Regions from separate parts of the Homo sapiens genome. Here region 1 is linked to region 2. Evidence: fine-mapped expression QTL. A gene starts in region 2. The other region holds a variant in brackets. All regions are shown on one strand. Distances are between the middles of the regions. Region 1 overlaps FATE1 (fetal and adult testis expressed 1). Region 2 holds the start of GABRQ (gamma-aminobutyric acid type A receptor subunit theta).

Evidence for each region. PIP is the estimated chance that this variant, and not a neighbour inherited with it, causes the effect.
Region 1: its variant is the best candidate, but not a certain one, in a credible set for the expression of GABRQ in esophagus mucosa (GTEx, PIP 0.51).

Annotation. Positions count from the first base shown.
Region 1 is chrX:151,721,828-151,727,193 of GRCh38, reverse strand. FATE1 (fetal and adult testis expressed 1) reads right to left here. Exons shown (of 5, transcript NM_033085.3): 4 at 5,213-5,291; 5 at 4,000-4,566. The coding sequence ends at 4,435. Among named protein-coding and RNA genes, the nearest start is that of FATE1, 8.5 kb to the right of the region's middle. The variant C/T (reference allele first, on the strand shown) is at 2,853.
Region 2 is chrX:152,634,667-152,640,015 of GRCh38, reverse strand. It overlaps GABRQ (gamma-aminobutyric acid type A receptor subunit theta), which reads right to left and starts at 2,121. Exons shown (of 9, transcript NM_018558.4): 1 at 1,665-2,121. The coding sequence starts at 1,813. MAGEA3-DT (MAGEA3 divergent transcript) reads left to right here. Exons shown (of 5, transcript XR_938525.3): 3 at 222-412; 4 at 4,029-4,134.

The DNA of each region.
Region 1 (5,366 bases), 910 kb after region 2:
ATGGCTTCAGAGGCAGGGGCTCTCCTGGCCAGTCAGCATCCGTTGGTCCTTCTGCACAACCTCCAGTCAGAGACAAACCACTGGGGGCTCATCGGCATCTGGAGCTAACAGAGATCTCCTGCCATTCCTGCCCCTCAGGCCAGCGGGGCCCTTGAGCCCCTGACAACTTAGCTGCAGCCTCGGGGTCAGAGAGCTGCCCCACCCTGCCTGAGGCCAACAGGAGAAGCTGGCAGAGGCCAAGAAGAGCTCATGCTCATGGCTAAGGCAAACTCAAGACGCTGCCCCAGGGTGTCACCTGCCCAATGGAGAAGCTGGCCTGTCTGTGGGCACTGTACACCCCAGGCTGTTGGCAGGCGAGGGCTGGGTGCTGGGCTGCCTGGCTGTAGAAGCTGCTTGCCTGCCCAGATCCAGAAGCCAGCCCCTCCCAAGCTCCCTGAGGAGCCCTGCCTTGCACGGAGCATGCTCAGAGCTATGTGTCTGGGGATTCAACCCCACCAGCTCACAGCCCTGGTGTACTTGCCTCCAGACCTTGGCACAATCTCAACCAGTCCACCTGATCTGAGGTCAAGCCAGGGAGAAATCTGAGAGAAGAGGTACCTGGGGTAGGGCTGGCCTGAGGGGAAAATCCATACCTTCTCTGCCAGGTCCCCTGGACTTGGCCTCCAAGAAGGGTTGGGGTTAGGGAAGGGAAACAAGGCAAGACCCTTGGGGCAGTGAGCTTTGGGCTCCTTTCCAAGAAGCCAGGATTTCAGGCTGCTCCTGGGTACACCAGAGTCCCCTCCATGCACCCTCATGTACCCCTCCTCACATGCCCACCTTCCTCTTCCCACCTTCCACCAGCTGCCAGGAAGCCAGCCTGTGACAAAAGAACTGGAATATTGAGTTTCAGCTTTTGACCAGGACTGGCGGGGGACCAGGGGCCCACTTGGCAGGGCAGAGAACTACATAAATGGAGGATTAAAGCTTTGCCCACCTGCGCAGCCAGCTGGGAAGACAAGCCACTCCCTCAGGGGGCTGCTAGGAGGGGCTTAAATGACATCCTGCGTGCAAAGCCTGGGATACATACAGGTGCGCATAATCTGCATGGAACAGCATAGAGAGTTCGCAAGGATACGCACCAACCAAACCATGGGAAATAATTCAGTGGAGGGACTTGGCATTTGGGGTGCAAGGGACTGTGTTAGCTAGGCCTGCAATGTTTGCCTTTTTGGGGAGAATGTGTTCATGCACAACTTGCGTAATTAAATATTTTTAAGATGCAAAGTGCATGGCACAGAGTAGGTGTGCCGTAGGAAGCGAAGAATAGAATTGGCTCCCTTTGGTGGGGAAAGGTTTTCAACAGAAGGCATACCCTAAAGGCCAGGAGGGGAAGACCAGGGCTAGATTCAATCTCTGGGGACCCTAATCAGAGGCCATCCTGCCAGTCCTTTACTTGTTCCAGGAGTGCAGAAGACAATGCAGGCTACCTTGTGCCCTCAAGAAGCTACTGATCCAGTGGAGGACTGATGTGTACCCCTCTAATACTAAGCCTGGGCAGCCCCTGGGAAGCTTCAAAGACTAGAGAAAAACAGCACGCCAGGAGAATCCCCTCCCCCACCCCCAAGTAAGAATGAGTTCCTTCCCTCCTTCATTCACCCACAGCATCCTGCTTCACCATGGGGAAGTTCATGGCTTGCTGGAGGAAGGGCTGGGCTCAGGGTGGAGAGGTTGGGCAAGGCAAGGACAGTTTGGCAGAGAAATGCAATCAGATGGGCAAATGCTCTAGGTGGGTCAGAGCCAGAGGGCCAGGCAGGAGGTGCCAACTTGCCTCCTGGCACTCTGCCCCCGAGCCTCCCTGGATCTCCCAGAGGCTTGGGAATCACAGATGTGCCAGCCCCCACAATATGGTCCCCATGCCCCTTAAGGAACATTGCAGAGGGGCCCAGACTGGGCAGCTCTGACTCCAGTTCCTCTCAGGAGCTTCCTGAGGTCTTCTAGGTGGGGCAGGGAGTTCTAGAGATAGAGCAGGAATGCCCTTCTAGGAACTGGCCTCCAGCCCTGCTGGGAACCAGCCAAATGGTCACACAGAAAGGCAGGGTGGAGGCCCAGCCACGGGCTCCTTATGAGCCCACCTGGCTCAGGAGACGTTCCTCTAGGGCACTGCCGTGCTGTTTGTTTGCAACTCAACTAAATTGCTCCCAAGGGTGAACCTTTGTTTCACAACATATTTTCAGCCAGACTTTTTCTGCAAACATGTCCATGTCTGTGCAGGCTCACAAACACTCAGGTCCCAAAGGGCAGACCCAGCCCTTCCCAGCTGCAGCCTCCTCTTCCTCTGAGCTTCCCTGTGGGGCCTGACTGGGGCCGGAGAAAGGGGCAGCCCGGGGTAGACAGTGTGAAGGCTGGACTCATGGCAGTTGGAGCACTGGGCTGATGGCAAGAAGCTGCACGTGCTGCCCCTGCTCCATCTCCCTGCTTCCCTTAATATTCCTCTGTATCTTGGGTCCTGCTCTGTCCTGAAGCTGCAGGAAGGGGAGGGGCGGCCTGCAAGGAGGTCCCCCAGTCTTCCATCTAGCCCATGGGTGACTCCTGGGGCCCCAGGCCCCATTTGCAGAGGACAGGGAACACCCCTGGTACTCCCTGGCCCTCTTGGCTCTCCTGGCCAGAAGTACTCATATCTGGGTGCTGCTGTTTCCCCATTCTGCAGAGGGGCTTCCTGTGGCACTTGATTACCTCTGTGCTCTGGGACCAGAGAGAGAATCTTTCTCTCTGGTGTTTCTTTCCTAGGTGTCCTTTTCTCTGCTTTGAGCAGGGCCCAGGCTCCAGGGGCCACGTGCCTCGTGTCCCACAGGGCTGACAGGAGGCCCTGCATC[C/T]TCATCTTAGAAGTATTGCAAGCCCTAGAGTGTCAGGCGTGGAAGAACCCCCTCATTGTATAGGAGCCCACTGAGGACCAGAGAGAAAGAGGTGGAGCAGGGACAGAGCAGGCTCTGGGACTCAAGCTTCTCTCTCTCTCTCTCTCTACTCTAACTTCCCTCCCTCTGCCGCTCTGTATCGCTGACTGTATCTCTCTCTCTGCCTCTCCCTTCCTCCATCCTTTCTTCTCTCCTCGCCTCCCCTCCTCTCCCTGTCTCTTCTCTGTCTCTCTCTCTCACATACACAGACACACACGTTCATTTCATACCTAGGGACTAACACGCTTCCCAGTCTTTACAGATGGAGAATCCTTGACAGATTTGGGGGATTAGGGAAGGTGCACTTAGCAACTAAAGCCAATGAGAAAGTTCTGGGTCAGAGACATGTGTGTTGAGCCCTTGGTCCCAGGGAAAGGGGTTGCAGCTCCTCTGCAGGCCTCCTGCACCAGGCACATCTGCACTGTGGTCAGGCCCCCACATGGCAGGCAACATTCTCCACCTCTCAGGCTCAGCCCCACTGGACAGCCCAGCTATTCACCCTGTCTGAGGTGTGCTTCATGGGCTGTGGACCCAGAGTGTGTGGTGGGTAGGGTGAGGGGTATGTGTAGCTCCCGTTCAGCCTCCAGAGCTGAGGCAGGACCTCATCTCCAGTGAGTCTGTCTGCAGGAGGCAGGCCAAGCCCTAGCGTAGGACTCAGGAGAACTCACGCCAGAGAACTCACATCCAGGCCCTGTCTCACTGGATGACCCAGGGACATGTTTCCTCTCTCTGGAATTCAATTTCCTCTTGCGCAAATGAGGTTTCTGGTCCCTTTCAGGAGATTTCCTCTGATTGCTTCCCTGCAACACAGCGCAGACATGCTCCCAGAACCACACCCCCACAAGCACTGGTTTGCATGAGCCCAACAGGAAGAACTTTGCAAAGCTGGGGCTGGGGACAGGGAGGTGGGGGAGGTGAAAGGGAGGAGGGAACCAGGGCCCCTGGGGCAATGGCAGAGGCTCAGTCCCAGCCACAAGGTCTCTGTGAAGAGGAGCTGTTGTTTCCCAGCGCACCCCACCTCCACTGTTGCCCCCAGTGAGTGCTGGACACAGGAACCTCAGCCACAGGGTTTTGCTGCTATGGCTGAACTTTTATTGAGCGTGTTGTCTGTGCAGAGCGCTGTGCACGAGGTGGAAGCAAACGAGGGAGGAAAACAAAGCCACACCCCTGCCCACAGAGGATGGAACAGAAGGGCCGCTGAGGTCAGGAAGGCAAGGTTGCCACTAGGTGTTACTGTGGGGCCCAGATGCCGCCATGCTGTTCACCCTTCAAAGGGTGGCATCTCAGCCCACGCAGTCCTCCTCCAGCTTCGCAGCAGCCAGGACCTCCCAGTGCAGTGACCTGGCCTCCCCAGGTAGGAGGCCTAACCAGAGTTGAAAATGATCCTGACGCTCCTGAGGGCTGCTGGGAGATGAAAGGGGCAAGGGCAGTGGCGGCCTGGGGAAAGAGGAAAGAAAGAAGGGGAAGCAGGGAGGGCTCCAATACGGAGGCCGCGCTGGGGCGATCACTGGTTCATCCACAGCCACAGGTTGGCAATGCTGGCCGACACCAGCACGGCGATGATCAGGGTCTCCCTGTGGCGCCAGGTGGCGCCCTGTTCCTCCAGGGCGCGCAGACGCCGGTTGACTGCATACAGCTGCAGAGGAGTCAAAGGCAGGGCTGCTGAGCGAGGCTCTTCTCCAGAAGCCCACAGCACAGCCATGGGAAAAGCATAAAGTTAGAGCAAGAAGGGGCTTGATTGCCCTTTGGCGGTGGAGCGGGGAGCGCCCCTAGTGAGAAGCAGGAGGCTGGGCCAGGTCCGCGGGACCAAAGACCTGGCTGCTACGTCTGCAGGCCCCACTTTTGCCTTCTCCCTTATGTTCACTTCCCTTCTCTGGAAGAGACCAGCCCATTCCAGCTGCGCCGGGGAGCCAAGGAAGAAAGGATCTCCTCCTAAGAAGGTCTGGGTTTGGTTTGAACAAAGGCGACCCCTCTCTCAGACCCTTAGGTATCACTCTCTCTCTGGACATAGAACCCTTATCCTTGTATGTTCCCTCTTCCTCCACCTTTTATCTGCCCCTATTCCCTACCAGCATCTCAGGGACAGCAGTGAGTTTGAGGCTGGACATCTATGCGGGGTGTCAGAGCCATGGGGATGAGGAGGAAGAGGAAGGGAATCTGCCCCACCTCCAGCGCTAAAGGGAAAGATGACTGTAAGGGACTACAGGACCCCAGCTGTCGAGCCCTGCCTATTCCAAGGCACTGTGATTCTGCTTGCACCCACCGATTGGGTCCCTCCTCACCTGTCTTCTCATGACTTCCATCTCCAGTACATTGAACTCTTCCAGGCTAGTCTGCGCCACTGCATCTGTCCCTGGGTTGCTGGGAGAGAAAAAAGACAGATGGTCAAAGCTGCTGGTGGTCCCTGGCAGGGAGCACAAGAAGGCAGTGAGGTCA
Region 2 (5,349 bases):
CCTTCAAGAGCCCCATCTTGCAATCAGCCTCGACGCTGTTTTCTAGGTTGGTGGGGGTCCTCCTGCCAGGGGCACCTGATTGCCCCAGGAAAAGTCATCTTTTGCTCTCAGTGCCCTAGTAAGATGAGCTCAAAGTTTCATTTCCCCTTACCTGGGCTAGGGCTGGGCATTTTTTAGTCACTTTTATGTCAACCTTGTTTCTGCACAACTCTGTTTTCCAGACTTGGCATATGGCATAAGACACACAGAGAGAGCCTTGCTGGTGTAGCTGAGATTTACGACCCTCATCCAACCAAACCATTTCAGATTCTTGGGGCTCAGAGCTCTCATCGGAAAGACATCTATTCTGGGAGCAGGTATATCTCTTGCTGAGCATGTGCTTCCACCCTGGAGGTGTCTTGGGTGAGCATAGGTAAGTGGACTCAGCCCAGCTCTGTGGAGAGCTGGCTTTTCCAGAGATCTCTGACACGCTCACCCAATTCACCTAGACCTTCAACAGGGCTCCTTCCCCAACAGGGCTTGCGAATCAGAACAGGCCCCGGCATCACTGTGACTCTTCAAATCTTTGACGCATTGCCCAGGGAACGTCAGCCCCTGCAAATGTGTGTGTTTGTGTGTGTGTGTGTGTGTGTGTGTGCGCACGCGCATGTGTGCATGTTCAGTGGCGCAGTATGGTATGTTGGGTTAAGGGCACTGCAGGGCTGTCTGCTGGAACCTTGCCAAACACCCCCCCCCCCTTTATGAGTACATGTTAATTTCTGGCTTGCCATTTAAACATTGTTAAAAATTATTCCTAATCATCTTTAATCAAAAATTTCATTTTGCAGCATCCCAAAATGTGCACATGAATTATTCCCAAATTAAAGCAATGCATTCCCACCTGTTTCCAAGCACACATTACCCATGTGCCAACGCTCAGGATCTGTGGCCACCCCAAATACACATTTCTGTGTGATTTACATGTAAAGGCTTCAGATACTCGCACACCCAAACAAACTTAAAATCAAAAAGAGAAAAAAACCGGAGTCTTCAAATATTTTCACACGACTAAGTACAAAAGCACACCCATCCCAGACCACACGGTTCGTGTTTATTCAGACACGATCGCACTGTCTGGGCTCCGATGGGTTTGAGTTAATCATTTCTATCTGCCGCATTGGAAAGAGTCCCTCATCCCCTCAACACATGCATGCACGCGCGCGCGCCTCAGGAAATGGACTAAAATGTAGACTCAAACAGGTGTCTCTCCTGTCTATGTTTTGTGAATTGCCCGTCATCCTGTACCCTCCTCCCCAATCCCACAGGTGCCAAAGCTGGGGAAAGCTGCCGGGAACCTTAAATCCTTGGGGATGGATGGACAGATCCTGGGACGAGGGCGACCCCCGCCCCCACCCCTCGGGCTGCGGTTTAGGCACACGCAGGGCTCAGTCAAGCTCCGCAGTAACAGGTGGGCGGAAGCACAGGGCTCCATTTCAACACCCCACTCCCACCTTACCCCTTCTAGGGGCCAACAGGCAGGGCCCGGGCGCCAGGGCTCAGCGAGCCCGGGTCCGAGTACCCCCCAGCCCGAGTCGCCCCCAGCCCGCTCCGTCCAAGAGGCCAGAGGTCGTCTGCCCGTCTCCATTCCCGTCCCCGCCGTGCCTAGCCTGGCGGTGCCCGCTTACCAGTTGAAGAGGTTCAGGACGACTTCGGGCACAGCAGAGGAGAACTCGAAGTGGAATTTCGGGATGGGACTGGGGTAGTTGCCCTCCGCGAGCCAGGTCCTGATGAGCAGCAGGATCACTGCGGCTCGCAGCATGCCTCGGATGCCCATGGCCGGGGCGTTCTGGGCGCCTGAGGGCGCGGGAGACGGGGCCGCGAAAAGGAACAGAGGTGGGGTGGGAGAGTGGGTGACTACTGGGGCCGGGGAAGGCGGGATTGCTGGCCCTTCCCCAAAGAGTCGCCTCTAAGGAGAGAGCAGCGAGGGCAAGGGAAGTAGGGGGTGCGGGGGTCGGCCCGGATACCGGAGATGAGAGCCCGGGAGGAGCAACCACCCAGCAGCTCTGCTGGACGCAGCTCCCCCCAGGGCCCGCCCGGCAGCTGCGAGGTGCGCTCCGTCTGCGGCCGCTCCTGGCTGCGACTGGGCACAGATCCCAGCTCGCTGCTGGCTCCGCCCACTCCGACGGCATCGCAGGCCCAGCCAATCGGACAGCTGCCAGGAGCCGCACAAAAAGGCGCGCGCTCCTGCCTCCGCCCGTAGCCTGCGCGCCGCCCGGCCCCCGCCCCTTCAGGCTTCTGCAGTCATCCCCCGGCCATCTCCAGACACAGGCAGGGCGGGGCCGGGCTGGGGGAGGGGGAGGAGGGCTGGCTCCTTGGGGGCTGGGCCAGGAATCCGCCTCAAGGGGCACTGGGTCCTGTCTCTTCTCTGCAAAATGCGAAATGTGTGTTTTTCTTGGAAGAAAGGGCCTGTGCCCGAGAGTTGTATTTGATGGTGAAGGGAGTGTGGTAATTTGACCGCCATGGCTGAATCTGCATTCTGAAAGACTTGGACAATTTTGGGCGTCAGGAGGTACCCAACGGCTGGTGACTCCGTACCCTTGAGCCTCCAGTAACCCCGCGTGCCTTGTCTCTGGATAAGGTCAAGGAGGATCCTAATGGGTTTTGTTACAGGGCTCTGGCCACAGCAGGACTGCTCCTCCCTCAGGATGGACATTGGGCTACAGGAGCCCAAGAGTTGCTTAAGACTTAAATTTCCTAGAGTGCTCTTCACCCCAACTTTGGGTACTCAGGAAAAAGACTCAAGGAACTGGAAGGGCTCACCAACTGGGGTCTCTCTGAGATGTGGTTGTGTCTCATCAGCCAGGGGATGCAGAATGAAGGTTCATGGCTGACACCATAGAAGGGGAAAAAAAGGCCAAGGTCAGTGTTTGGGGTGTTCAAGGGAGTTAGGCACTGGAGACCAGGGTATGCCAATGTTCCTGGGTTCTGACCCCATCATATGGAAAAGCCTGACATCTTGACTAGAGGGCTCTTATTCTTTCCACTACCTCAGACTCTGCCCCTATGGGACAGAAAAATCGTGGAGGATAAGAAATGCCTCCACCCAATTTCCTATGTCCTTCCTATCCCATGACAAAGCAAGTTCAGAAAGCTTAGAAAGTGGCCTCACCAGAGCCCATAGGGCAAATGGGTAATCAACAAACAGAGCTGCCATGTTCACCGGCATGCCACCTCCCACATCACACCATTGAGAAGAGTTGAAATCAAAACGGATTTCAGGTTTACTTTTGGTTACCTAGAACATTCACTGAGAAACACAACATCTCCCCCTTTTTTTCCCCTCAGTATTTGATGAAATGAGTTGAGATTGCTGGTGCCCAGCAAAGCATGACTTACCTGGTAGGCCAAGCAGTTTTGCACAGCTGAGGGTTTAACTCTTTTACCACTCCCCCTTTAAAATCATTTTAGAACCATACTTTTATGAAAAATGTCTCTCATAGTTTCCTGCCTTCTTTTAATGAGCAGAACACCCTCACACCTTTCTTTCCCATCTCCCCTCTTTCCCTGGCCATTGCAGTAAGAAAAAAGGATGATGGGACCCATTTGTCAGGATCACATATGAGAGCAGATTAAACCCACCTCTACTGCTACCAGTCCTGTCCCATCACCTCTGGTCACACAGACGTCCTTGTAGAGAAAATCCTTGTTTGCCAAAAATGTTAGAGCCATTCCGGGGCATTTTGTCCAGCCACCTCGGTTGTAATGTAGGGAAACTGAAGCCCAGAGAAGAAAAAGGGATTGGCCCAAGGTCACACAGTAGCAGAGGCCAAAACTAAAAACCACATTTCCAGGTCTGCTTACTTCGAGAAGAGTGCGTTTTCAGTCTAAGTCAGCTTTGACTGGAAGTTCTAGCAACCACCAGCAGGTGGGAGCAGATTTGTTTGAATGTGGGATGTTCCCAGCACTGAGGAATCAAATTCCACAGGCAATTGGTCTGGTCGCTCATTTGTTAGGGGAAACAAGCCTGAAGCCTGAAATTTTGTTCTTAGGTACCCTTGTGACTATGAAGATTGACAAAAAGTTGACGGCAACGATGAATTCTCTTCCAGAACTTACATCCCAGAAGGCCCTCCCCTACTTCGGGTCTCCCTAGAGGTAATGCTTCATTGAAATTTCTGACTCACAAGAAAAGGATAGCCAAAATACAAGAAATACAAAAATGCCATTATAATTTGTACTTATTGAGCGTTTGCCTAGTTAATTTATTATAATATCCATAAAGATCTAGATTGAATAAGCTTAAACCTGAATATGGGATAATGGTGTAGGACAAAGAACACTCATCTGGAAGTTAGCCCATCTGTGTTCTGACCCAGCTCTGCACACGACAGTGAATATTCCAGTTTGGCTAAAGGGTAGAGTAAGTTTGGAGGTAAGACAACAGGTGAGATAGGTAAGAGGTGAGAGATTAGGCAGAACCTGACTTTGTAAGCAACACACACTCAGTGTACAATAAATTCTTGTGTAATGAATGAGGCAAGAGAAAGAATCTGGGTCCTAATTTTCTAAAATAAAAAATTGTATTTTATTTTAGAGTCAACAGTAATCTTCTGAAGGATTTGTGCAAGGGAATGATACAATCAGAGTGGCACCTTCGCACTGAAGGAAAAACTGGGAGGGAGAGGGACTGGGGGCAAGAAGAGCACACATCTCCTTCTGGTAATGGCCAGCTAGGTAACTTGGACTAGCTGTTCCAGTGAGGACAATGAAACAAACTGGCTGAATGTAGAAAGAAATAATTGTCATAAAGAACTGAGAGATACTGAGGCTAAAATCCGGAAGAAGACAAGAACCCAGGGGGGAAAGCCCAGCACTAGAATCCTCTTTTGTCCTGATGGCTTCTACTGAATCTGGAAGAGAGTTATGAAATTGAGCTGCAGTTTTGGTGGCATCATAAGGAAAAAAGTGAAAGCTCAAGGCCCAAGGAAGTAGCGGATTTGATTAGCATTCTTGTCACTCTCAGCTGAGACCCTGAGTGGCTACCCCTTTGGGTTAATGGTGACCTATAAGTAACCAGCCCTTGTGTGGTCTTGTAAACCTAGATACTCATCATATGGGCAGTCCAAGGAACCTAAAGCCCTGATCTTGGATTAAAGTGGCCTTGGACAAGTAGTATCCTCAGGCATTTGAAAATACCCCAGCAAATGAAAAGACTCTGCTGGAAGGTATTATCATATTGGGCCTAGAATCATTTGTACAATAATTTTTCAAAAATATGTCAGCGTATAGTCAAAGATAACTTGGCATAAAAGGAAACACATAGACCATGACAGCCAGTAGACAACAAAAACAAACTCTCAAAGACTTCAC